Linked DNA regions of Homo sapiens: region 1 is linked to region 2. The links come from fine-mapping of genetic effects on gene expression. A gene starts in region 2. The other region holds a variant in brackets. All regions are shown on one strand. Distances are between the middles of the regions.

Region 1 (12,504 bases), 35 kb after region 2:
ACTGCGTGGGGCCCTTGCCTGCTAGCTCTCCACTTTCCACGTACTGGTGGGGGCAGGTGTGTCCAGCCAGGCCCTGTGCTGGCTCCAGGCAGCCCAGCTCCATTCATGCACCCAGGGACTCTTGTGGGCCTTCCTTACTGCACTAAAATCAACAAACAATTGAATACAGTGTTGGTTATAGTAGTCAATTATTTATTCTTTTCTAATGCTCCTGAGGGGATGGTTGCTTCCACATCCCATTCTCTCTTTTTGAGATAGGGTCTTGCTCTGCTGCCCGGGCTAGAGTGCAGTGGCAGTATCCCAGCTCACTGCAGCCCAACCTCCTGGGCTTAAGCGATCCTCCTGCCTCAGCCTCCTCAGAGTAGCTGGGACTACAGGCACATACCATCATACCCAGCTCATTTTTAAATTTTTTTTTGTAGAGATAGGGACTCACTGTGTCACCCAGGCTGGTCTCAAACTCAGGGGCTCAAGGGATCCTCCCACATCAGCCTTCTGAAGTGCTAGGATTACAGGTATGAACCACTGTGCCTGGCCTCCACGCACCATTATTTAACCAAGTTCACTATCGGTTTTAAAAAAACAAACCTAGAGGGAATGTAGATCATGCCTGTGGAGATGGTCCCATGACTCTCAACTTTAGCCAAAACTCATCAACTTTACAAAATAGAACTAAAATAACCTTTTGGCTCGTATTTGTGGATGCAACCTGCAAACACTGGAGAAAGCATGTCGTGGTGTTTTTGAACAATCTCTGATGGGAAGTGTGTCACAGCTCCTCTAGGCTGCGCTGCTGCTGGTGCCATTGCTGGAGTTGCTTATTTTGCTCCCATCTCTGGTCTGGGAATATGCACTTTTCCTTTCCTCAGGTTGTCACATCGATGTTTTGTGAGCTCCCTGCCAGGGGGCTGTCCGATCTGGCAAGGCAGAGAACTCATCTTAAAAGTTTCTGTTCTCCGCTGGGCACAGTGGCTCATGCCTGTGACCCCAGCACTTTGGGAGGCCAAGTTGGGAATATAGCATGAACCCAGGAGTTCAAGACCAGCCTGGGTAGCATAGTAAGTCCCCATCTCTACACAAACATAAAAGAAATTAGCTGGGTGTAGTGGTATGCACCTGTGGTCCCAGCTACTCGGGAGGCTGAGTTGGGAGGAACACTTAAGCCCAGAAGATGGAGGCTGCATTGAGCCATGATCGTACCACTGCACTTCAGCCTGGGTGACAGAGCAAGACTCTGTCTCAAAAAAATAATAATTAAATAGGCTGGGCGTGGTGCCTCGCGCCTGTAATCCCAGCATTTTGGGAGTCCAAGGTGGGTGGATCACTTGAGGTCAGGAGTTTGAGACCAGCCTGGCCAACATGGTGAAACCCTGTCCCTACTAATAGTACAAAAATTAGCTGGGCTTGGTGGTGTGTGCCTGTAATCCCAGCTACTAGGGAGGCTTAGGCAGGAGAATTGCTTGAACCCTGGACGTGGAGTTTGCAGTGAGCTGAGATTGCATCACTGCACTCCAGCCTGGGCAACAGAGCAAGACTCTGTCTCAAGAAAAAGTAAATAAATAAATAATGAAAGTTCCTGTTGTCTCAGTGTTTGCATTTCCTGGTAGGGCTCACTTTTCAATGAATTGAAATACCAAGCTTTCTAATTCTTACATTTCAATAGCTGCCCTTTTATTTCCCACTTTCACTGGGTAAATTGCTGATTTTCACTCCTGGTGCACCTGGTATTCACCTGGGGCGCTTTTAAAGCTGATACAAATGCCAGCCCCACTCTTGCCCTGGCAGCTGGGTCAGGGTCTGAGCATCAGTATTTTTTAAGTCTCCCCACCCCATGCTTAAGATGTGAGCCAAGGGTGTCCGTGGCTTCTGATGGCTATCTCAACCCACTCTTATTTAAACCAATAGTGAAAACGACACAACACTTGGGGTAGAAGCCTGGCTGTGTTTGGCTTTGGGAAGGCTGAAGAGTGAAATGGAAAGCACTTGGGCAGTTTTTGGTTCCGCAACAGTGAATCAGGATTACTGTGGGTGCTGACTTCCCTTCCCCTTCTGCCTGAACCCTGGGCCATGTCAGCTCCACTGATCTGGCAACATCCGGAGCACCCCCAGGACCAGGGAGAAGGTCATCATCTGAGAATAAGAAACGTAGAAGATTGGTCCACTGCAAAAGCGCCCAGTCGGCCCCAGGAGGTGGTGTGTAAATGGAGGGATGATGAGACCCGGGACATGGGCAGCCCTGGGACGGTGGCATCCATCCTTAGGTTTGGGAGGAATCTCACGATTTATGGAACAAGCACTTCTATTACAGGGCCTAATGTGCTGGGTGCAGCTCCAGCCAGTTCACCTGTGTGCAGATTCTGCTTTCTCAGCCACCCTTTGGCAGGTGTAACCCACATTTTAGTGACGGGGAAACTGAGGTACCGCATGTCTAAGTGACTTGCCCAAGGTCACACGGTGGGGATTTGAATGTAGTCTGTCTCTAGAGTGGGGGCTGTTTACCAGAACGCTCTGCAGTCCCTGCCCAGCGAATTAGCCGGCACTTCCAGGATAGTTCTCTGCGTAAAATTTGGAGCTCCTGGGAAGGTGGCTGCATTCTGCAAATGCCTGTGCTCTGTGGGATCACAGGGTGGAGGCAGGCTTTTCTCCTGCCCAGCAGCCCACCTCAAAGGGGCCCTAGGCCCCTTCCTCTGCCTCTGGGGGTGGTTAGACCAGACTCCCTGGGGTGCCTGTTGCCAGCGTGCTTCTCAGGGCTCCACCGCTCCTGTGTCTGTTGCCCACCTCCTTCTCCATCTGTGCCTCAGTTCCTCCTCCTGTAAAACATGGGAAAGGGAAGCCTGCACGAGCATAATAAACCCTGAGGACTCACACTGTGCTGGCCATGCTTCTTCCCATAGCTAATGCAGCGCTTCCTATCCTTGATACAGGACGGGATCGTGGAAGTTAACAGCTCATTCCCTGCTATAAATTACGAAGTCCTGTTCTGGCTTCCATTTCTCTTGTTTAGACAGAACTTAAACCTCATAAAGTGAGTGGAATTAGCTCTTTAGGTGAACAGACACAATTGTGTTTTTAGATCTGTAAATTCGAGAAACAAACCTGGTGGGACCTGCCTCCTGAGGGCCCTGTGTCTGTGTAGAGGTGGGGTGGGTGGGACCTACTTCCCCAGGGTCCTGTGTCTGTGTAGAGGTGGAGCGGGTGGGACCTACTTCCCTAGGGCCCTGTGTCTGCGTAGAGGTGGGGCGGGTGGGACCTACTTCCCCAGGGTCCTGTGTCTGTGTAGAGGTGGGGCGGGTGGGACCTACTTCCCCAGGGTCCTGTGTCTGTAGAGGTGGGGCGGGTGGGACCTACTTCCCCAGGGTCCTGTGTCTGTGTAGAGGTGGGGCGGGTGGGACCTACTTCCCCAGGGTCCTGTGTCTGTGTAGAGGTGGGGCGGGTGGGACCTACTTCCCCAGGGTCCTGTGTCTGTGTAGAGGTGGGGCGGGTGGGACCTACTTCCCTAGGGCCCTGTGTCTGCGTAGAGGTGGGGCGGGTGGGACCTGCCTCCCCGGGGCCCTGTGTCTGCGTAGAGGTGGGGCGGGTGGGACCTGCCTCCCCGGGGCCCTGTGTCTGCGTAGAGGTGGGGCGGGTGGGACCTGCCTCCCCGGGGCCCTGTGTCTGCGTAGAGGTGGGGCGGGTGGGACCTGCCTCCCCGGGGCCCTGTGTCTGCGTAGAGGTGGGGCGGGTGGGACCTGCCTCCCCGGGGCCCTGTGTCTGTGTAGAGGTGGGGTGGTGGGACCTGCCTCCCCGGGGCCCTGTGTCTGTGTAGAGGTGGGGTGGTGGGACCTGCCTCCCCAGGGCCCTGTCTGCAGTGAGCAGGGCGTCTTCATTTCTGGCTGCTCTGAACTCACGGTTAAAGTCCTGGTCAGTTTTGCTGCATTTCAGTAGTTTGTCCAACAGTGTGGCTGATCAGACATTGGAGGCGTTCTTACAGATTCAGGTTTCCCTCACCACCAGGGGTAATTGACCTCTTCGTCTGTATGTGTTGGTGACATAAAGCTGAGCAGATCACTTACGGATTTGCTACATAGACGAGTAATAATTCCTGGACAAGTCGAACCTAGAGCCCCAGGCTCCGGTCACTCACCCATCCTCCCGTCTGCTTGGCCTGGAGACAGCCCAGGCAAAAAGGCGGGAGAGTCTGGCGGAAGGCTGGGCTCCTTCCTCAGGCTTGAACCCGTGCCCCCAGCCCTGATGATGTCAGGCCCGTGTTGGTAGTGGCCACACAGGCTCGGCAGCCTGGCTCCGTTCACCAGACCAGGGTTGGCAGCTCACTGACCCTTGGCTGCATTGGTTGAATTTGAACCAATTTGTGATTTTTCTCTTTTGCCCTGTTTCTGGGGCAGCCTGGGGCTCTGGCATCCCCAGAATTGGACCTGAGGCTGTTTATTTCTCCAGGAAAGTCCAGGTAAACCACCAGAACTCTCAGTGCTTTGGCTTCACGATTGGTACTGACGGACTCCGGTCTGGGGGAGAAGGCAATAGAGATAGAGATGCCTGATCCTGTTTCCAGGGAGAGGGACTTTGAAGTACTCAGTTTAAGCCCATACTTGTAGACAGGAAATCAATATTCTGAGAGATACAGGGGCTGACATGTGTATGGGGTTGGCAGCAGGGGGCTGACGGCCCGGCTCAGAGCACATTCACAAACTTCCAGAAAACGCGTGAGGGTCCTTGGATTCAAATACACTGTGAATCTGTCAAAGCCAAGTGCAAAAGGTCAAGTTGTAGTGACACCATTTTATTTTCATTGTCTTATGTTCACTCTCATGCCTTACATACCAGAGCCCCTACTCAAATTCAATTAGGATTAAATTCAGAACTTCTGTTCCCTGCGGGACTGGCCCTTCTTGGTGTGGACAATGCGCTCATTGAGAGCAGCCTGACTCTTCCATTAGCAATCCTAAAAGCTATACATTATCTCCAAAGCAGTATTTTAGAATTTCAAATATGAAAACTGCTTGCTTGTAAATTCTTTAGCTGGGGCAACTGCATTTAATTGGTTTGCATTCATTAATGGGTAGATAACAGATTATAGGGTTCAAGCAACAATTCTTACTTTTTTCTGGCTAGCATTTGTGATTCTTCAGTTCCTGTTTCCTTTCATTACTAAGATCTTTCCTTTTATATTATTATTTCCTTTTTTAGTTTTTTAAAGGCAAATCAGGCATTTTTATCTGGAATGGAAAACTATTTTAGGCATAGGCATCAACACGGTTCTCCCTTTGGCCCTAGTGAACTATGTAACAGAGACTTGAAAACCATTCTTCCAGGGTAGCTGGAGTGCCCCTGACTCCGCATTCCCATAGTCACACTCTTGTGAAATCTGGTGGGTAGAAGCTGATGACGTTTTTAGCTCATGTAAAAACCTCATGATGCCTGGACTGTTATCTATGGGATTAGTGTCCCTGAAACAAAAGTCTTAGTACTGTGGTAATGACGAAGAAGCATTTTTCTTTCTTTTCTGTTTTTTGTTTTTTTTTTTTTTGAGATGGAGTTTCACTCTTGCCCAGGCTGGAGTGCAGTGGCGCTATCTCAGCTCACCGCAACCTCCGCCTCCCAGGTTCAAGCAGTTCTCCTGCCTCAGCCTCCCAAGTAGCTGGGATTATAGGCACATGCCACCATGCCTGGCTAATTTTGTATTTTTAGTAGAGATGGGTTTTCTCTGC[G/A]TTGGTCAGGCTGGTCTCGAACTCCCGAACTCAGGTGATCCGCCCACCCCGGCGTCCCAAAGTGCTGGGATTCCAGGCATGAGTCTCCGGCCTTTTTCTTTCCTTTATTATTACCATTTTAAATTTATTTTAGATATGGGGTCTCACTGTTGCTCAGGCTGGAGTGCAGTGGCATGATCATAGCTTATTGCAGCCTCGAACTCCTTGGCTCAAGCAGTCTTCCCTCCTCAGCCTCCCGAGTAGCTGGGACTACAGGCATGCGTCACCATGCCTGGCTAATTAAAGTGTATGTGTGTGTGTGTGTGTGTGTGTGTGTGTGTGTGTGTGTGTGTATTTGTAGAGATAGGAGCCTTGCTATGCTGCCCAAGCTGGGCTCCAACTCCTGGCCTCAAGCAATCCTCCTGCCCTAGCCTGTTCTTTTTGAAGCTAATGCCTGCTGTATTGGGTTTTAAAGGCTTTTGATCATCATCTTCTGTAGTGGGAGAATGACTGTGGATTCCGGGGACACTGTCTGATTTCTGCCTGCTGGGGTCCAGTCCAGCTTGACTGGAAACGGATTGACTTCTCAGTCTGAAGCTGACCCCTGGTAGGCGTGCGGAAGGGAGGAATGTTGCCCTTCAGGTGCTGAATTCCAGAGCACAAGCTGCTTGCCAACAGGGTGGCTCTGTCGCCCAAACAACAGCATTCCCAGGCTGGCTTTTCCCAGAAGAGGGAGGTGACCCGGGTAGCTCTCGCACTTTGACCCTCAGACTGGCAGCAGGGCACATTCTTCTGACTCCTACCGGAGCTGGTCTGGGCTCAGCTCCCAGCTCGCTTTCCCTCCACATCCCCAAAGGGCACACTGTCGGCTTTGCTGAAGGGGGAGCTGGAGTCCACGCTCGGGGCCTGGGAGACCACAGTGGTCAGTAGACAGGTCTGTCTGGCTCTTCTCACAGGACATGAGTGTGTGTCTCTGTGGGCGCCTCTCTCCAGGGTTGCCCAAGGGGTGACCAGCCTGCCTCAAAATCCAGGCAGCATCGCCCAGCAAGGTTTGAGGACTTGGCGTCATCAGAATGTGTGGCCATTTCAGAAAGATTGGGGATGGGAATGGGATGAAATTTGGTTGTGCTTCTTGGCTATTTGGCTCTAAACAGTGGTTTATTGGCAAAGGACAGTCTGCCTTAGAGAGCCACATGTGTGCAGGTGTCATGCGTTCAGTCCATGCTCCAAAGCCCCACAGACCAAGGGGCCTTAACTTCATTTGTGTCAAGACCCCTCGGCCCCCGAGGGGTACAAGCCCAGGACCCCTTCTCAGAACACTATGCCCAAGTGCGTGCAGTCACATACAAAGGTAACCAGCTGTCCTTAAGTACAGTCGTCTTGAGCCTTTTTAAATTATGATTGATATGTGGTTCATGGTCCACATATTAATGAATGAAGGCATGGCAGGTCTGAAGGGTCGTGGGCATCACGCTGGAGTGTCTGAGGCATCTGGCATGCGGATGGAAGCACCTGCTGGCCCTGTTGGTGATGAGTGCCCCTTACTGCCATTTCTGCAGTTTGCTGCCAATATTTGTGGTGAAAGGAAATGGTAAATTTCAGGTAGAGGGTGGTGAAAACAAAGATGATGTTTTCTCCCTCATTCAAGGTCATGGACCCTGTGAATTTGGTTTATGACCCCAGTGGTTAAGAGCCCTTGCTAGTGGTCGACACTGTCCACACACTCAGGGGAAGTTGCCCTCAGAGTGACATGGGACCATTTATAATTTAGAAGCTGCCAATGATGGGCCACTGTTGCATTTTGGTTTGCCTAAATGTGATCTTTAGAAAATTTTGAATTAGTTTTGAGTGCTTAAAACTTGGGAGATTAAAATCCACATTGTTAGCTTCTTTTTAAAAAATCAGAACCAGGCTTACTTCTCCCAGGCGAGGGATTGGAATGGGGCCTGGACACTCCCTGGGTGCCACCTCTCTCTGCGCCAGTGCCCCAGCAGCCTCATCCTTGTTCAGAGGCACTTGACCTTGGCGTTCTGAGCTCGAGAGTGGAGGCCAGTGCTGTCAGTCGTTCCCAGCTCTCCCTCCTCTTGGCCTAAGGGCATGGCCCGGGAGGCCACACATGCCCCAGGGAGGAGGGGATGAGCTGGCCTGCAGCAGGTGCTATGGGAGCTTCCAGGCCTGTCTGCAGAGGCTCCTTGGGATGGCGTCTGAGCACAGGTCTCAGTCTCATTCCTCTTCGAAAGCGTGCCCCCGGCAGGTGTGGTTGGGAGCAGGTGCTTTGTGGTTGGAAGATCTCACTTGGGGTTTGCTTGTTGGTGATTGAAACAAATGCATCACCAGGAGCGTCTGTGAAGCCCCTTCCTGCCAGCAGGGAGGGCCCATGCCATGCACAGCCTGCTCGGTCCTCGAGAGGCAGGTGGGGGCCAAGGTGCATGCTGCTGCCTCTCCCACAGCTGCTTCCTGAGAGCTCGTCCCCCCAGTGCGGCAGATGTGTCCAACGATGAAAAGCACGCCAAGGCTGGGAGGACATACCAGCAGGCGTGCTCGGCTCGGCCCTCCCTGCTGGGGGCTCTCACCTGCTGCGTGCACTGCACCTGTCCCAGGAACACCTGCCTTGGCCAGATCTGCTCCCCTTGTGGGAGTCTGTCCTCCACATCTGAGTATGCAGAAAGCTTGTGCTACAGACAGGGGTTCAGAATTCTGCCAGAAAGTTCCTAGGTAGCCCTTGAGTGGACTGGCAGGGAGCCGCCTGCTGGTGGGGAGGTGAGCGGGCCCCCTTGGGGATCTGTGCACTGTTGGTGGGATAGAAAGGTGGTCCTGGGGCAGACGTTGGGAACAGAACAGTACGGATGTGCAGGTGTTACCTGTGGGGAGTGTATTCTGACCCGGGTTGATTTGATTAGATGACTGCATTGTAAAAGTACACAGAGCTGGGGACCTTTTAATCTTCCTTTTTAGCCATCAGTTCGGGGGTCTCTGCGTTTAAATGTAGGACGGTGGCGGGTGTTCCAGTGCCCTGGCCCAGCCTCCCTCTAGCGCTGCTATGCCTGACTCCCCCACACTTCAGTTTCCTCATGGAAAGTGTGTGTGCCCACATCGACCTCGTGAGGCTGAAGTGCTGGGGGCACGGGGAGAGCAGATGCCCACACTCCAGGCACTGCAGGGGTGCATGCCAGCTGGCCCTGTTCCCCGCCAGACCCAGTGACAGACAGCACCTTGTCAGTAGCCAATGTGTTGACGTTGAGCTGTGTCCCGAGGGTTTGATCTCAACCTGGAAATGTTTTGGGAGCAGGTTCCCGGCTTGCCTGCAATTGCCCGCACCTCTGTCTGTTTTAAACCTGGAGGGCAGGCGGGGCTGCGGCACCCACAAGAAGTGCGAATGCTGGGGCCTGGCTCCTCAGGGATTCCGATTCCAGCGTGGGAGGGGAGATGTCCACTGTGTCCTAAAAATATCGTGAGCACCGCAGGGTGCTGTGTGATTCTGGGCAGATAAGGGCAGGTGTGGTTTACAACTGCTGTTATGAACTCAGAAGCCCTCCCCGCAGCACTTCCTGGGCAGGGCAGCACAGGGCAGCTGGGAGCACCCAGGGGGTGTAAAGGAGGAGGGTGAAGGGACATGGGCACACTTTGCTTCCGGAGTCTGCATTCCCGAGTCAGCTTCTATCTCAGCAAGGGCCTTGGCAGTCGCTGCTTTTTTCTGGACATCAGTTCTTGATTCCTTCCATCTCCAGCCATGGCTGGGGCCAGGACTCCTTTGGAGTTGGTGCTTGAAGGCAGGGAGGGCTGTGTGAATGCCTGAGGCCCGTTCTTCCTGAACATTCTTGGATTCTGTTTCCCATCTAGTCTGGGCACCCAACAGCTTGTTTTCTCGAGGGGCTGCCTGCTTTGGGGATGGTGCCCATGGGTGGCACATTCTCCATCAACTATGTTTAAGCATTTCATCCTGTGTGTGTTGCCCTAAAAATAAACATCCCTGTGGGACGTTCCCTTGCAGTGTGGCTGGTGGCTATGTTCTGAGATGAGAGATAACCACTCTTTCTGTCCCTCTCTTCCCACCAGGGCGGGAGCAGTTCCACGGCCTGGGCTCCATGTACTGCCGGGGGGCGGCCGCCATCATCCTCACCTATGATGTGAATCACCGGCAGAGCCTGGTGGAGCTGGAGGACCGGTTCCTGGGCCTGACAGACACAGCCAGCAAAGACTGCCTCTTTGCCATCGTGGGGAACAAAGTGGACCTCACTGAGGAGGGGGCCTTGGCGGGCCAGGAGAAGGAAGAGTGCAGTCCCAATATGGACGCTGGGGACCGTGTCTCCCCAAGGGCACCTAAGCAGGTGCAGCTGGAGGATGCGGTGGCCCTTTATAAAAAGATCCTCAAGTACAAGATGCTGGATGAGCAGGATGTGCCGGCCGCTGAGCAAATGTGCTTTGAGACCAGCGCCAAGACCGGCTACAATGTGGACCTCCTGTTTGAGACCCTCTTTGACCTGGTGGTGCCAATGATCTTACAGCAGAGAGCTGAGAGGCCGTCACACACAGTGGATATATCCAGTCATAAGCCACCCAAGAGGACCAGATCTGGGTGTTGTGCCTGACTTTCGAGGGCCTCCTGGACTCAGACTGTGCATGTTGGGAAGGGGTCTGACCAGGCAAGCTGTGATCTGAAAGGAGCAAGGAACAGCAAGGAATTATTTTCCAGAATGACACCCGCAGCAGAATGTTGGAGTGGAAATGATGGCTGGCTATGAAGAGGAGGTCAACGTGTGTGGTCTCCTCAGTCTCTGTCAGAGGGGTGGGGAGGTGGGAAACAGGAATCCTCTGCAAAGCCCAATCTGCAGAGTCGAGACCCCTGGTGCTCTCTGCCCCGCTGCCTGGCACTGGTCCTTTGCAGCCAGCCACCAACGGCCCCCTTGCCCTTGCAGAGGCAGAAGCCTGCGTCTGCACCTGCACCTCTGACCGTTTCAGCACCCTGGGTTGTTACCACGTCCTACAACTCTGACATTTCTTGTTCTCAAGCGTTTCTCTTCACTGTGAGTTGTCTTTGGTCCTCCCACTTGGTACTTGTATCTTGATGCTTTATAATCCTGACTCTCGACGTGTTCATTTATACAAAATCAGGAATAACTTTGTTTTTATACTGATTGCAGCAATGTTGGCTACATGTATTATTAAAGAGGATTTTTGGAACAACTTAGGTATTGAGACTGAACTGACTTCATTTGCACCCCCAGTCCCAGGGACTCTCTGTGGGGTAGGGTGGGGGGCGCTGGGGAGATGGCTGTGAACTTGAGATACGTCTCTCTTTGTGCGGAAGCTCTGTGAAATCCTTACCAATTGCAGAATATTTAGATTGGCCCATCTGTCTAGTTTTCTTGATGACTTGAATTCCAATAATAGTAGCAAAGCTTAAAGCTCTGGTTCTGCTGAAGTCTGGGGCATCTGAGCACCCAGGTCTCTGAGTCAGAAACCCCCTTCGGGTCTGCTGCTGCTGGCCGTGGGGTGGCTGCTTTATTGGAAGATGTCAGACAGAGGTGCCAGGAGACAGCAGATTTGTTTTCCCAGAAATGTGACTGAACGAAAGCAGGCTGGGGTCGGGGCTGTTTGTTGGGAGGCAATGTGGGGCAGATGGCACTGGGCAGTGGGTTTCATAAGTGCTGTTTTCTTTCTTTTTTTTTTTTTTTTTTGTGATAGGGTCTTGCTCTGTCACCAGGTTGGAGTGCAGTGGCGTGATCTTAGCTCACTGCAGACTGTACCTCCGGGTTCAAGCAATCCTCCCGACTCAGCCTCCCAACATGCTGGGATTACAGGCATGTGCCACCATGCCCCAATAATTTTTTTTTTTTTGGTAGAGTTGGGGTTTTGCCATGTTGCCCAGGCTGGTCTCAAACCCTTGAACTCAAGCAATCCTCCCTACTCAGCCTCCCAACATGCTGGGATTACAGGGTGCTCTGTTTTCTGGGGAGCTGTTCATAATTTGCTGAAGGCCTGTGCTCTCCGGTTTCTGGGCTGCTGCAGGCCTAACTTCTCCGCTCCTGTGGAGTGAGTGCTTTCAGGCAAGGAAGGGAGCTTGAACCCCAGGAGGAAGCACTGAGGCAACCCCTGCGATTGCAGGTCCTCAGCTCCCCTGAGATGTGGTTTCGGAGTTTAAAACTTCAGTTTCGCAACAGCAGCCCATTGAGAAGTGAACGCAAATCAGCCTGACTCGTGACTTTTTATTGACTTGGTTGAATATACCACTGTAGGGACAGAAGTTATATTTATTTTCTATAATGTGTATCTTTGCTAGTGACCCATCTAGGAAATAGGCTAATCAAAGAGACCTTGGAATCTTTTTTTTTTTTTTTTTTGAGACAGAGTCTCACTCTGTTGCCCAGGCTGGAGTGCAGTAGCACAATCTCAGCTCACTCACTGCAGCCTCGAACTCCTGAACACAAGTGATCCACCCACCTCAGTCACCCGAGTAGCTGGGACTACAGGGGTGTGTCAGTATGCCTAGCTAATTTTTTATTTTTATTTTTTGTAGAGATGAGGTCTTGCTGTGTTTCCCAGGCTGGTCTGGAACTCCTGGGCTCACGCAATCCTCCTGCCTCAGCCTCCCAAAGTGCGGGGATCATAAGCATGAGCTCTGGCCCTGGCCAGAGTCTTTCTTTGAAGGCTGTGAAGGGAGAGAAAGTATCATATGGCACTGTTTTTGCAGTTGGTGCTTGAAGGCAGGGAGGGCTGTATGAATGCCTGAGGCCCGTTCTTCCTGAACAGTCTTGGATTCGATTTCCCATCTGCTCCGGGCACCCAACAGCTTGTTTCCTCGAGTGGCCGCGTGCTCCGG
Region 2 (12,504 bases):
TAACTCTTATATCAGCTTCAACAACAGATGTTTGTTTTCTCACCGTTCTGGAGGCTGGAAGTCCAAGATCAAGGTGTCGGCCGGGCTGGGTTCACCTTCCCACCCATGTGAGGCCTCACATGGCTGCCCCTTGGTCCATGTGTCTGTGTCCTAATTACTTCTTATAAAGACACCAGTCACATTAGATTAGGACTCTCTCCAGTGACCTAATTTTAACTTAATCACCCTTTCAAGGCCCCCTCTTCAAGCTCAGGCTCAGTGTGTGGTGCTGAGGGTTAGAGATTCAGCATGAATCTCAGGGGGACTCACTTCAGCCCTAAACACCTGTATTCTCTAAGACACTCGTGCCGTGAATAATAACATGGGCATTTGATTATGTTCTCTCCGTTTTTCACTATTTTTAAAAGATGTGTTTATTTCTTATAGTATTCCAAGCCCTGTGCTCAGTGCCGGGGTCGTAAAGAAAAGACAGACGCGCTTCCTCTCACAGAGGGGCTCAGAATTCCTTCAGGCACCACTCACTTTTGGGATGGGCAGAGCAGGCTAGTGCTGCAGAAGAACAGATTTTCTAAAACTGTTAAGCAATATATGAACATACAATTAAACATTATTCACGTCCCATTGAAATACTGAGGGTCACTGCTGTCTCACTGTCCATCATTACGGCTTTGGTGATTTTTAAGCAGGGGAAGTGGTTTCCACACGGTCTCCATTGACTTTCTCCCGCTTGTGAGTGGATGTTTATGGCTCATCATCTCTCTGCGAGTCAGTTTGCCCAGCAGCCCCATAAAGAGGACAGAGTCCTGGATCCCCCATTTTGATGATTTAAGTTCTTATATAAAATTATAGTTAAAATGTCAGTGAACCCAAAAATATTTTCTACGCTCCAAGCTGTCCTCGAGGCCATTATCAAGTCCCAGTTCCTAGTGCAGGATCCTCTCTCAGACCCCAGATGTGGGCTCAAGCCTCTAGCACTCGACCGGAGATAATAGCAGATGCTCTCCCCCCACCCCATTCCACCACCCCTTTGAATAAGATGGAATGTGCAGGCGACCTCCATGAACGAATGTCAGGGTGGGCAATGGCGTCAGGACCGTGCGAGTGCTTTCCTTATCTGTGGTTGTCATGCGTTCTACAGTTTGCTGTGCCTCATTATTGAATAGAGGTACAGAGAGGAATGTCTCTGTTGTCAGTTCGGTTTAACCTTTCTTGGGGGTGAAATATACATACGGAGGCTAAAGCAGCTCCACCTGGGACGCGATCTGCCGGGTTCACTTCTGACTAACCCCAGTTCTGGGAAGGCCTCTAGGATTTCCAGTTTATTGTTCCTTGAGTAAGAGCAGGTCCTCATTGTAAATCCTGTCCTTAGGTTGAAACAACCTTGATGTTATCGTCCTTCAATTCCCTTGCACATCCCCTCTGAGTCACCCTTTTGCTGTAGTACAGAAGGCCTGCGTCTGGCAGGTAAGGGTGCCCAAGACACAGACACGGCTTCTGTTCGCCAATCTTTATTAAATGTTTCTTTTCTTTTCTTTCTTGTTTGTTTTTTTTTTGAGATGGAGTTTCACTCTTGTTGCCCAGGCTGAAGTGCAATGGTGCAATCTGGGCTCACTGCAACCTCCACCTCCCAGGTTCAAGCGATTCTCCTGCCTCAGCCTCCTGAGTAGCTGGGATTACAGGTGTGCACCACCAGGCCCAGCTAATTTTTGTATTTTTAGTAGAGATGGGGTTTCACCATGTTGGCCAGGCTGGTCTCGAACTCCTGACTTCAGGTGATCCACCCACCTCAGCCTCCCAAAGTGCTGGGATACAGGCGTGAGTCTTCCCGCCTGGCCCTAAATGTTTCTTTCTAGGAAACTGGGTATGTCAGCCTCTTTATTCAGCCTGTCAGTTTCCTTGGCCTTTGGGGATAGGTTTGCACAGACCTAGCCACTGCAAAACCACACTAATATAAAATTCACCACTTTGGCCAGGCATGGTGGCTCACGCCTGTAATCCCAGCACTTTGGGAGGCCAAGACAGGTGTATCACTTGGGGCCAGGAGTTTGAGACCAGCTTGGCCAACATGGCAAAACCCCATCTCTACTAAAAATACAAAAATTAGCCAGGCGTGGTGGTGCACGCTCGTGGTCCCAGCTACTCAGGAGGCTGACACACAAGAATCGCTTGAATCGGGGAGGCAGAAGTTGCAGTGAGCCTAGATCGTGCCACTACACTCTAACCTGGATGACAACGTGAGACTTTGTCTTGAAAAAGAAAAAAATATATAAGATTGTCTTTATACCCAAAATCTACCTTTTTGAAGCTTGTAGTCACTTTTATTTCCATTTCTATACAATTCCATTAAATTAGTTTTGAAGACCTAGGATAATTTTTATGATAAACAGAAAATGAACCGAAGGAAGGCACCAGTATTGAATCAAACGAAAACAGTTTCTGAAATCTAAGAAGAAATGGTGCGGGCAGATTGTTGATGTAAGTCCTTACCTCATTCTAGCACTCGCTGAAATTCTATCTTTGTCGACATCCTGTTTAAAATGGAGCCCCCTGCCACCGCCTCAGCCTGCATTCCTCCCGTCTCCTCCTCCCTTTTCTTCATCTAGCGTTTAATCAACACCAAGGGTGCTATATCCTGTGTGTTGCTGTGTATTTTGTTGGCTCTTTCTCCCAGCAGGTGCTGAGGCCCAGGATGCTGTCAGTTTCCCTCACTGCTCTATTTCTGGGTTGGGACTTAAGAGTAGAATGGGCGCTTTTGCTCCTATCTGCTGAATGAGTACATAATAAATGGATAATACATTTTTTTTTTTTTTGAGCCAAAGTCTCGCTCTGACCACCAGGCTGGAGTGCAGTGGCATGACCTCGGCTCACTGTAACCTCTGCCTCCTGGATTCAAGCGATTCTCGTGCCTCAGCCTCCCAAGTAGCTGGGATTACAGGTGCCTACCATCACGCCCAGCTAATTTTTGTACTTTTAGTAGAGATGGGGTTTCACCATGTTGGCCAGGCTGGTCTCGAACTCCTGACCTCAGGTGATCCATCTGCCTCAGCCTCCCAAAGTGCTGGGATTGCAAGTGTGAGCCACCACACCCGGCCTATATTTTGTTTTTAAGAAAGGAGGAAAGTAGCTTAAAAGAGAGTTGTTCTACAACAAAGTGTCTAAAAATGCTCCTTAGCCATTTTGCAAAATCTAAGAGAAACAATCATATTTTCTTATTTCTTTAATGAGACTGTTAATGGTCACAGAATTTCTCAGTTTGCATCTCTTTTAAAAAAATGAACTACATAATTTTCTTGGCCTCACAGCACATTTCTTTGATGAAACTGGAAAATTAAGTACCCTGTTAAGCCAGTGGTTTAAACTAGACAGAATAAACATCTAACTTGGCCCTAAGCAGCTGGTTTAAATAGACCCTTAACCCTATACTACCTCCTTCCTCAACACTGCTTCCTGCAGGTGAATACGGTGATTTACAGCCTTTAAGACATTTTTATAAGGAGTGGCTGAAATTTGATATGGAGACATTCTCTTGGTTTAGTTTTCAAAGTGCTGGAAAATTCCTTTAACTTTTTCAACCAACTTGCTCGGTGAATTCCAGGTGCCAGTCACTGGGGTAGGTGCAGGGAACAGTCCCTCCCTCCACAAACTCTAAAAGCAGCAGTGTTTCAGGTGGTGTTTCAGTTCACTAGCGAATTTATTAAAATGTGTATTGATTGAGCATCAATTGCCTTCCAGGGCCAGGTACTTGGGAGACATAAGAGAAACAAAACACAAAGATTCCTGCCCTCATGAGGCTTCTTCAAACATTTACTGAGTAGAAGAATGTGCTGAGAAAGGGACAAGGCACTGGGTGAGGTGTTGAATGAGGTTAGGACCTGCTCCCTGACCCTAGGGAATTTTTAAATTACTAGAGATGATGAGAGTCAAATGAGTCCGTTAGTCATTGTCAGGGGCTAAACTGCATCGAAGAGGCCAGCAGGGTGGTAGAAACTCATATGAAGGAGCAGGAAAGGTCTCCCCAGAGGGAGAGGATTAGAAGGGGGTGTGCCTGGGCTGCACCTCATGGAATCCCTGAGTCCTGCACAGAATTCCAAACCTGCACAGATGAGGGGTTGGAGGGCTTTTCAAGTGGGCAAACTCAGTGAGCAATGAAGTGGAGAATAGCTGGTCATGATATGCTTACAGGATGTTGCTTCTGGCCTCACCAGGGAGGGGAATTCATTCATTCTTCTGCGACTCAGTGCCTTCTTCAGTGCCCATTGTGTGCTAGGTGCAGTGGTGTTCACCAGGCACAGTGGTGAACAACACAGAAGAAGCTGCTTCCCCATGGAGCTAACACCCTAGAGAAGGAAACTGCACCATCAAACCTGTAAATAAGCCACACACAGGGCAACAGGAGCTAAAGGAGGCGGGAGAGCTACTGTAAAAAGGGTGGTAAGTGTGTGTGTGTGTGTGTGGCGGGGGGCAGGATTTGGACTTGTGGAGATAGAAAGTAGGGAGCCGTGGCAGGTCTCTGGGTAGAGAAAGCAGTGGTTATGAAAGGTTAGTCTGACAGTGATTGGGACGGCAGGAGCTTGGAGTTAAGGAGACCAAATAGGAGTGGATTCTAACTATTTAGGTGTAAGAAGGTTCCAGACAAGTGGGCGTCTGTGGGAAAAGAGAGAGAAGATGTTAGAGGGATTTATTTAGAAGGGAAAATCCATTGGGCTTGGTGATGAATTGGATATGGTTATAAAGAAGGTGAAAGAATGAATGACTCTGCATTTACAGAAGGGCAGATGAACGATGTGGTGGGTTGCCATATTGAGACATCCATGTAGAAAGGCTTAGTAGGTGGATGAAGAAATGGACAAAGAGCTCAGGTGAGAGAAGCAGACAGGGGGTAAAATTTGGAGAATCAAAAAGCATGCTCCAGGAAGTGATTAAACTTCCTGATGGTAAAAAAGTAGAAAGAAGTGTAAAAATTCTAGGTGAGCCTTGAACACCCGCTGAATAAATGGAGAGGTATACCATGTTCATAAATGGGACATTTTAATATTATAAAGATATCCACTCTTCCTAAATTTAACTATATATGTCATTAATGTGTTTCCTGAGGTTAGATACATTGATTCCAGAATTCATATGGAAGTGTAAATGTTCCAGAATAGTCAAAGCAACTTTGGACTAGGACTACAGGTGCACACCACCATGCATGGCAAATTTTTTCTGTAATTTTCATAGAGACGGGGGTCTCCCTATGTTGCCAGGCTAATCTTGAACTCCTGGGCTCAAAGGATCCATCTGCCTCGGCCTCTCAGAGTGGTGGGATTACAGGTGTGTGCCACTGCGCCTGGCCAACAGGCACCAAACCTGACTCATGTTTGTGTCGTCCCAGGCCAGGCACTGTAGCTTGTGTGAAAATTGTCAGAATCGAAATGGAGCCGCTAATGTTAAGAAAACCCTGACAAACAGAGCCGGGGAAGGCCATGAAGAGAGGGTTCTTGCGCGTGCATGCCTGATAACAAAAAGGACTCTCTGGAAAAACCGCAACCTTGCACAAAGGCCACTGCAATCTCCCACAAAAAACTAGTCCTGCAAGGACATGGCCCAGCCACTGGCTGTCCTACTTTGAACTGGCATCGCCTTCGTTATGGATCTTTGTAGCCACAGATAATTATTTTCAAACAATTGTGCAATCCGCCTCATTTTTTTTAAAGCCTTTGCTTTCCTTGCCTCTCTGAATATGCACAAGTTTACCATGGCATGCATATTTCTACTGCAAAGCTCTATTGCAAAATAAATATCTGTTTCTTTTAGAGATCCTCTCTGTTATTTAGGTTGTCACTTGCATGCAACAGGCATTGAATAAATGCTGAATTGACTTAAATTTGTTCTGAGGATGAGGCAGTGCTGGCTGAGAAGGAGCCGGGGTCTCCTGGTGCGCTTTCCACGCCCCAGAAGGTCCGCTTCCACCTCAGCCCCACACTGCTCGGTCTCAGCAACCTGACATGCCAGGGCTGAGCAGGTACGAAATACCTTGGCATTCCTGCCTTGTCGGAGTCTCAGGGCACCTACGAAGGAGGCAACGGGCCTATTTCCCTTTACAGGACACCTTCAGGACACGGGTTTTAACCTGCTCAGGGTCTCATCGCCTTTCCCAGCCAGGCCAGCGGCCAGAGTGACACTGTCCCCCAGGGTTTAACTTAGAGTCCATTCTACCTCTCATTTTCTCTAAAAAACCCCAACCAACCAACTAACCAAATTCTACACGCTGCATATTTTAAAAGCATTTCAAGGTTTATCCTTTAAAACGGAAGGAGGACCTGGGAGGCCGAAGCGGGTGGATCACGAGGTCAGGAGTTCGAGACCAGCCTGGCCAACATGGTGAAACCCCGTGTCTACTAAAAATACAAAAATTAGCCGGGCATGGTGGCACATACCTGTAATCCCGCCTACTCGGGAGGCTGAGGCAGGAGAATCGCTTGAAACCGGAAGGCGGAGGTTGCAGTGAGCCGAGATCGCGCACTGCTCTCCAGCTTGGGCAACAACAGCAAAACTCCGTGTCAAAAATAAAAAAAAAAAAAAAAAAAGAAGGAGGAAATATTTCTCAAGTAGCGACTGCAACTTCCATAGTCAAATTTTCATTCCAAGCTATAAATGGAGATGACTGTCCACTTTTCAGGACAAAAAGCTTCTTGCAAAAGTAGAAGAGCAAAAGCAAAATCCTCCACTAGAAAGCGCCCCCATCTCTAATCTGTAACAGTGAGAGCCTCAGGACGAGTTCCGCAGACGCTCATTTAAAGCAAACTTTTTCAATGACCTTGAGGGTGGCTGTACTTACACGCGGAGAAGCAAATCGACCGCAGCTGGAAAGGCGCTGGGTCGAGCGTGAGAGGAACACGGGTTTTACCTAAGGGAGAGTGGAAGAGAGAAGGGGGTTCCCCAAGGGCCCCGGCCCCTTCGCCTCGTTCGGGCCCCGCGGCCAAGCTCCTCGCACCGCAGCCCCGGCTGTGCAGAAGCGGAGGGGCGGAAGGTGCTCTCAGAACTTTCATTTTCCACCCTGCAGCAGTCCCGAGCCTCGGCTGGAGAACTCGGATGCTTGCGAAACGGCGAGGTCCAGCAGGGGCGGGACGGGGGCGGTGGGCGGAGGAGGATAGGGCGGGGCCGCGGCGGTGAAAGGGCCCGGGGGCGGGGGCGGGGGCGGGGCGAGGCGAGGCCGCCGCGGTCCGGGCCCCCGACGTGGGCTCCGTGCTCTGCACCCAGCTCCTTCCCGGGCGCGCACACGCGCTTCCTCTCTTGAGCTCCCGGGCGTCCGGAGGCGAAGGTCCCGGAGCGTTCACGAGAATCCGGGTCCCGGCGAGTCCGGGGTCCGCTCCTCCAGCTGCGCCCAGGGCGCACGAGCCGGCCAGCCTCGGGGAGAGGGCGCGGGGGCGCTGGGGGTTCTTACGGGAAGATGAGGAAGCCCGACAGCAAGATCGTGCTCCTGGGGGACATGAACGTGGGGAAGACGTCGCTGCTGCAGCGGTATATGGAGCGGCGCTTCCCGGACACGGTCAGCACGGTGGGCGGCGCCTTCTACCTGAAGCAGTGGCGCTCCTACAACATCTCCATCTGGGACACCGCAGGTGAGGCCGGCGCCGCATGAGCCACACCGCCCTGGGGCTCCGCCGGGGACGGGGGGCGCGGGGCTTCCAGCAGGGCACCCGGCCGCGCACAGGGTCCCGGCCTCGGACAGCAAATGCCTCCTTCTCGGGGTTTCCCACTCGTCCTCCCTTGCTGGTTGGGCTGAGCGCTGCCTCTCAGCCACTCAGTGACCTCAGGGACAACCCAAGTTGCAGAGAACCCGCTGGTCATTTGTGTACCTAAGCTGCCTTTGCTCCCGAGCCCCGCGTTCCTGCTCTGCCGCCCTGGGAACCAGAGACGCTCCTCTGTGGCTGCTTTGTTAGGTATTTTCAGTTTTCACGTACCCGTAGGAACATGATATCCTTTGAGATTCACTTGAGGGGTGAGCAGAGCTGGTGTTATTAGCCCCTTTCTAAGAAAAAGTAAAATGAGGCACAGAGTGTTCCCCCCTGTTGGGTTTAGTCAGGAGAGAGGAAATAAAACTGGAGCCTCCGGACCTCTTAGCCCGGAGCATATCTGCCTTTTACAGTTAATCTTCTGCTTGATCTTGGCTCAGATACGTCATATGGGTTTGGGTTGGAGTGACTTCCGGTGGAAGCATTTTTAAGATAGGTAATGAGTTATTTTTATTGTGTAGTATTTGTGACTTTTCAAAAGTACAACTTAGAGGATCTCAATTCAGGCTTTCTGTTTAACTTTGGAAAATAACACTGGTGATTGTAGCATTGCAATGGAATATATTTCCTTCTCCTTACAAAAGAATAAGATATTGTAAGTGAATGAAGAAACTGGAAATAGTGTGACACATTTTCAATGAGTGTGAGTTTTTAGAAGCCTGAAACTCTGAAAGTTCTGACTTCTTTTATGTTAGCATCTTAAAAAGTCATATACCCAAAGGCCCCGTCCAGAATTCTTAAATTGCCATCTTGGGTGTATCAGTATGCTGAATAAACAAGATGATAATGAATTCTCTCTTTAAAACTGAATTAACGAAGCTCACAGAGGTACTTCCAGTTCTCCCCCTCCCTTTTGCCTTCTTTGATGCTTTTTTATTATTATCCCAGTTAACATCGTGACTAATTTATTGGCAATCATCTTGTGAAAACAATGTCCCCCAGGTAAAGAGGTGCATTTCCCTGATCTTTGCTCCAACTCTGTCTTCTGCCTCAGGCTGCAGGATGAGGTTTACTGAGCTGACTCCCTCACACTGAGCATTTGGTAACGATGGAACACACGCTCTAGAAGTCAAATCGAACCCAATTCACGAACCCAATTTGCTTCTGTACAAAGTCAAATTGAACCCAATTTGGTTTTGTACAAAGCTTTGCCCCTCTGCTGCTTTTGCTGGTTGGCTGGGATTTACTGCTGCCCTTGGTTTACAAGTAGCAAGGTTAATGCAGGAGTGTTATTGGGGGACCCTAACCGAAACCCCTGTAGTGGCCACCGTTGGAGGCAGACTCTTAACACACGGTGTGTTTCTGGAACAAGAGCTGCCCTGCAGTGCTGGAACGGCCCCTGCATCGGAGGGAATGAAGCAGCAGTTTCGTTTCCACTGGCCTCTTGCTTCTTCAGCACCAAGGACGTGATGCAGCCGGAATCCTGATCACCAGAGATTTTGCAGTTGTGCTGATGTGACGCCCCAGATGTCTTGAAGCGTTACTGGGGGGCAGCAGCTCATTTCCTGGCATCCGAGGCTGCTGCTGCTTGTTCGAAAGATCCTAAGGGTGAATTACTAGAGCTCCTCAGAACAGAGAGTGGCCAGGCCCCTTCTCCACATTCCTGACTTCCTGTGTACACACTCAGGCGGCCCTTGCCCAGAGTTGGCAGGGACACAGGGCACCCTTGCCTGCCTCCTCGGTGGCCTGTGGCCTGACCGGGTACTTGAAGGGAAAAGAGAGGTAGGAACAGATACCTTTTCTATAATTGTTGGAAATTCAGAATTTAACATTTAGGGGACCCTGTTCTTTTCCTTCTTTTGCTGAGCTCCTAAACTTTCTCTCCACCCCACAGACATTGCTTTTCAAGTTGTTTTTGTTGTAATTGTCATAACCGAGGCAGAATGGTAAGGACCAGCCGGAGGAGGAACCATTTTGAAAGTTGCTTTTAGCCACACAAGGCAGGGTGGGCTGGGGTGGGGGTGCAGGTGTGCAGAGGGCGACAGGATGTTTAATAGTAAAAACGATTGCATGGGGGTCAGTGTACACCCAATGCCTGGCTGCTTGTAGCCTGCAAGGCAGGCAGTGGATGGAGCTGAAGAGGGGGAAGAGAGTTGGCAGGGCAGAAGTACATTACCCTATTCCATTGACACAACAGTCCTCCAGAGGGAGGTGTGATTATTTGCATGTTAAAGATGGGGCCAGGCGTGGTGGCTCATGCCTGTAATCCCAGCACTTTGGGAGGCTGAGGTGGGTGGATCACGAGGTCAAGAGATCAAGACCATCCTGGCTAACATGGTGAAACCCCATCTCTACTAAACATACAAAAGTTAGCAGGGCGTGGTGGCGCACACCTGTAGTCCCAGCTACTCGGGAGGCTGAGGCAGGAGAATCGCTTGAACCAGGAGGCAGAGGTTGCAGTGAGCCAAGATTGTGCCACTGCACTCCAACCCGGTGACAGAGCGAGACTCTGTCTCAAAAAAAAAAAAAAAAAAAAAAACAGATGGGAAGACAGGGCTGCGCGGTGGCTCATGCCTGTAATCCCAGCACTTTAGGAGGGTGAGGCGGGCAGATCACCTAAGGTCAGGAGTTCAAGACCAGCCTGGTTAATGTGGTGAACCCGTGTCTACTAAAAATACAAAAATTAGCTGGGTGTGGTGGCTGGCGCCTGTAATCCTAGCTACTTGGGAGGCTGTGGCAGGAGAATCGCTTGAACCCTGGAGGCGGAGGTTGCAGTGAGCCAAGATTGCGCCATTGCACTCCAGCCTGGGTGACAAGAGTAAGACTCTGTCTCAAAAAAAAAAAAAAAAAAAAGTGGGAAGACAGCAGAAGTTAAGTGGGATTTAGACCTTGGTTCATCCAACTCCAACTCACCTTGTCTCATTATGCCCTTTTAGGGGGCACTTGCCACTCCCAGCCCTTGTCTAATTGGGCACACAGATGTGGAGTGGTTGCTGTGCATGGGTGGGTACATCCAGGAAGCAAAAGGAGGTTGCCCAGCGAGGAGGCAGAGCCCTAGAAGACGTACTGCTGTGCTCCTCTGTGTTGCCCGGTTGCTCAGGACAGCCTAAAGTGGTGTTGCCTGTTGTTGGCAAATATAAACTGAGGCTCCCCGGTGCCGGGCACTGTTTGGGCCCTCGTTCTACAGCAGTGAGCAGGCCGGCTGGCCGCTGCCCCGCAGGCCCTGGATTCCAGAGGAGGGGGAAAGGCAGGCAAGAAGTGAATGGTACAGCTTCACATCTGATCGTTGCTCTGAAGAAAATACGACAGGCTGATGAGAAAGCGGCTGGTGTGCCCAGCACAGACCTGGTCCCCAGAGCCCTGGAGACAGAATGCTCTCCACATTTGTTTTCCTTCCCTTCTAAAGGCCGTGGCCTGGCGGCCGGGAGGCGGGGGGAGCAGGGGCATTACCTGACTCACGTTTGCATCCCCAGCACCTGGCCCTTGAAGAGCCAGCTTGGAAGGCGGCGGGGAGCCCAGACTTGCGCCACTTCCCTGTGCCGGCATCCAGCTCCAGCTGCGTCTCTGGGGACTGGGTGTTGGAGAGAGTGAGTGCATTTTGCATGTGGAATGGATGCACGTCTGTGGGAGCCTGAAGCCAGGCTGTGACAGACAGAATAGTGGCCACCGCAAAGATGAGACATCTTGGTCTCTTGAGAGTCCTCTGGCCTTTGGGTCCTTCTGAGGCACCAGCAGAAGGTTATGTGGCCACACCAGGGCCTCCTCTCCAGCACAGGCGTTCCGGATGGTGGGCCTCCTAGTGTGAGCCTCCCAGCAATCTGCCTGACTGAGGACTTCCCACATCACCAAGTCCTGCTCCTCTTTGTTCGACAATTCTTCCCTCATCCTATCTGTTCTTCCTCATCTTAATATAAACAGCAAGAAAAATCCACACCTTCAACACTTTGCTTGGAAATCTCCTCAGCTACATATCCAACTTCATCACACAGTGATGCTTCCCTCACAGCTGTGGGGCACGACTCAGCTGAGCTCTCTGGCACCACATCCTCCCTCCTCCAGCTTCTGATAACACAGTCCTCATTCAGACCCCAGGCTTCCACCTGTAATTGGCTCCTTCTGGTGGAGGTGTTCACTACGAGGATGCAGGTTTTCTCTGCTATGCTTCTCGCTTCCTTCTGATTCCTCACCAGCAGGGCTGTTCATGTGCACCTTCCTGCCAACCATCTGTTTAGGCCAATCCGGGCTGCCCTCTCATGATCCTCAGATCCTCCCAGATCTGCCATTGCCCAGTTCTAAAGCCACTTCCATATTCGTGACAGCCTCTCTCTGCTCCCAGTTCCAAAGTCTGTGTCAGTTTCCTATTGCTGCTATAACAAATTAGTTACTTAAAACAACACAAATTTGCTGGGCATGGTAGCTCCTGCCTGTAATCCCAGCATTTTAGGAGGCTGAAGTGAAAGGATCACCTGAACCTAGGAGTTCAAGACCAGCCTGGGCAACACAGGGAGACGGTTTCTACAAAGAATAAAGAAGTTAGCCAGGTGTAGTGGTGCGCACCTGTAGTCCCAGCTACTTGGGAGGCTGAGGTAAGAGGATTTCTTGAGCCTGGGAGGTTGAGGCTGCAGTGAGCCATGATCATACCACTGCACTCCAGCCTGGGCAACAGAGTAAGACCCTGTCTCAAATGAATAAATAAATAAAAATTAAAACCATAGATATATTGTCTTTAAGTAGTCTGGAGGTCAGAAGTCCCAAATGAGTCTCTCACTGGGCTAAAGTCAAAGCT

The links.
Region 1: its variant is fine-mapped to the expression of RAB20 in whole blood (INTERVAL, PIP above 0.99).

Annotation. Positions count from the first base shown.
Region 1 is chr13:110,521,434-110,533,937 of GRCh38, reverse strand. It overlaps RAB20 (RAB20, member RAS oncogene family), which reads left to right. Exons shown (of 2, transcript NM_017817.3): 2 at 9,741-10,872. The coding sequence ends at 10,273. Among named protein-coding and RNA genes, the nearest start is that of COL4A2-AS1, 20 kb to the right of the region's middle. RefSeq lists enhancers at 2,564-3,180, 7,657-7,726, 8,177-8,226, 9,171-9,310, 12,003-12,082 and a silencer at 6,182-6,476. The variant G/A (reference allele first, on the strand shown) is at 5,706.
Region 2 is chr13:110,556,448-110,568,951 of GRCh38, reverse strand. It overlaps RAB20 (RAB20, member RAS oncogene family), which reads left to right and starts at 7,230. Exons shown (of 2, transcript NM_017817.3): 1 at 7,230-7,604. The coding sequence starts at 7,433. RefSeq lists silencers at 7,101-7,550, 7,442-7,631, 7,611-7,670 and enhancers at 10,512-11,034, 11,035-11,558.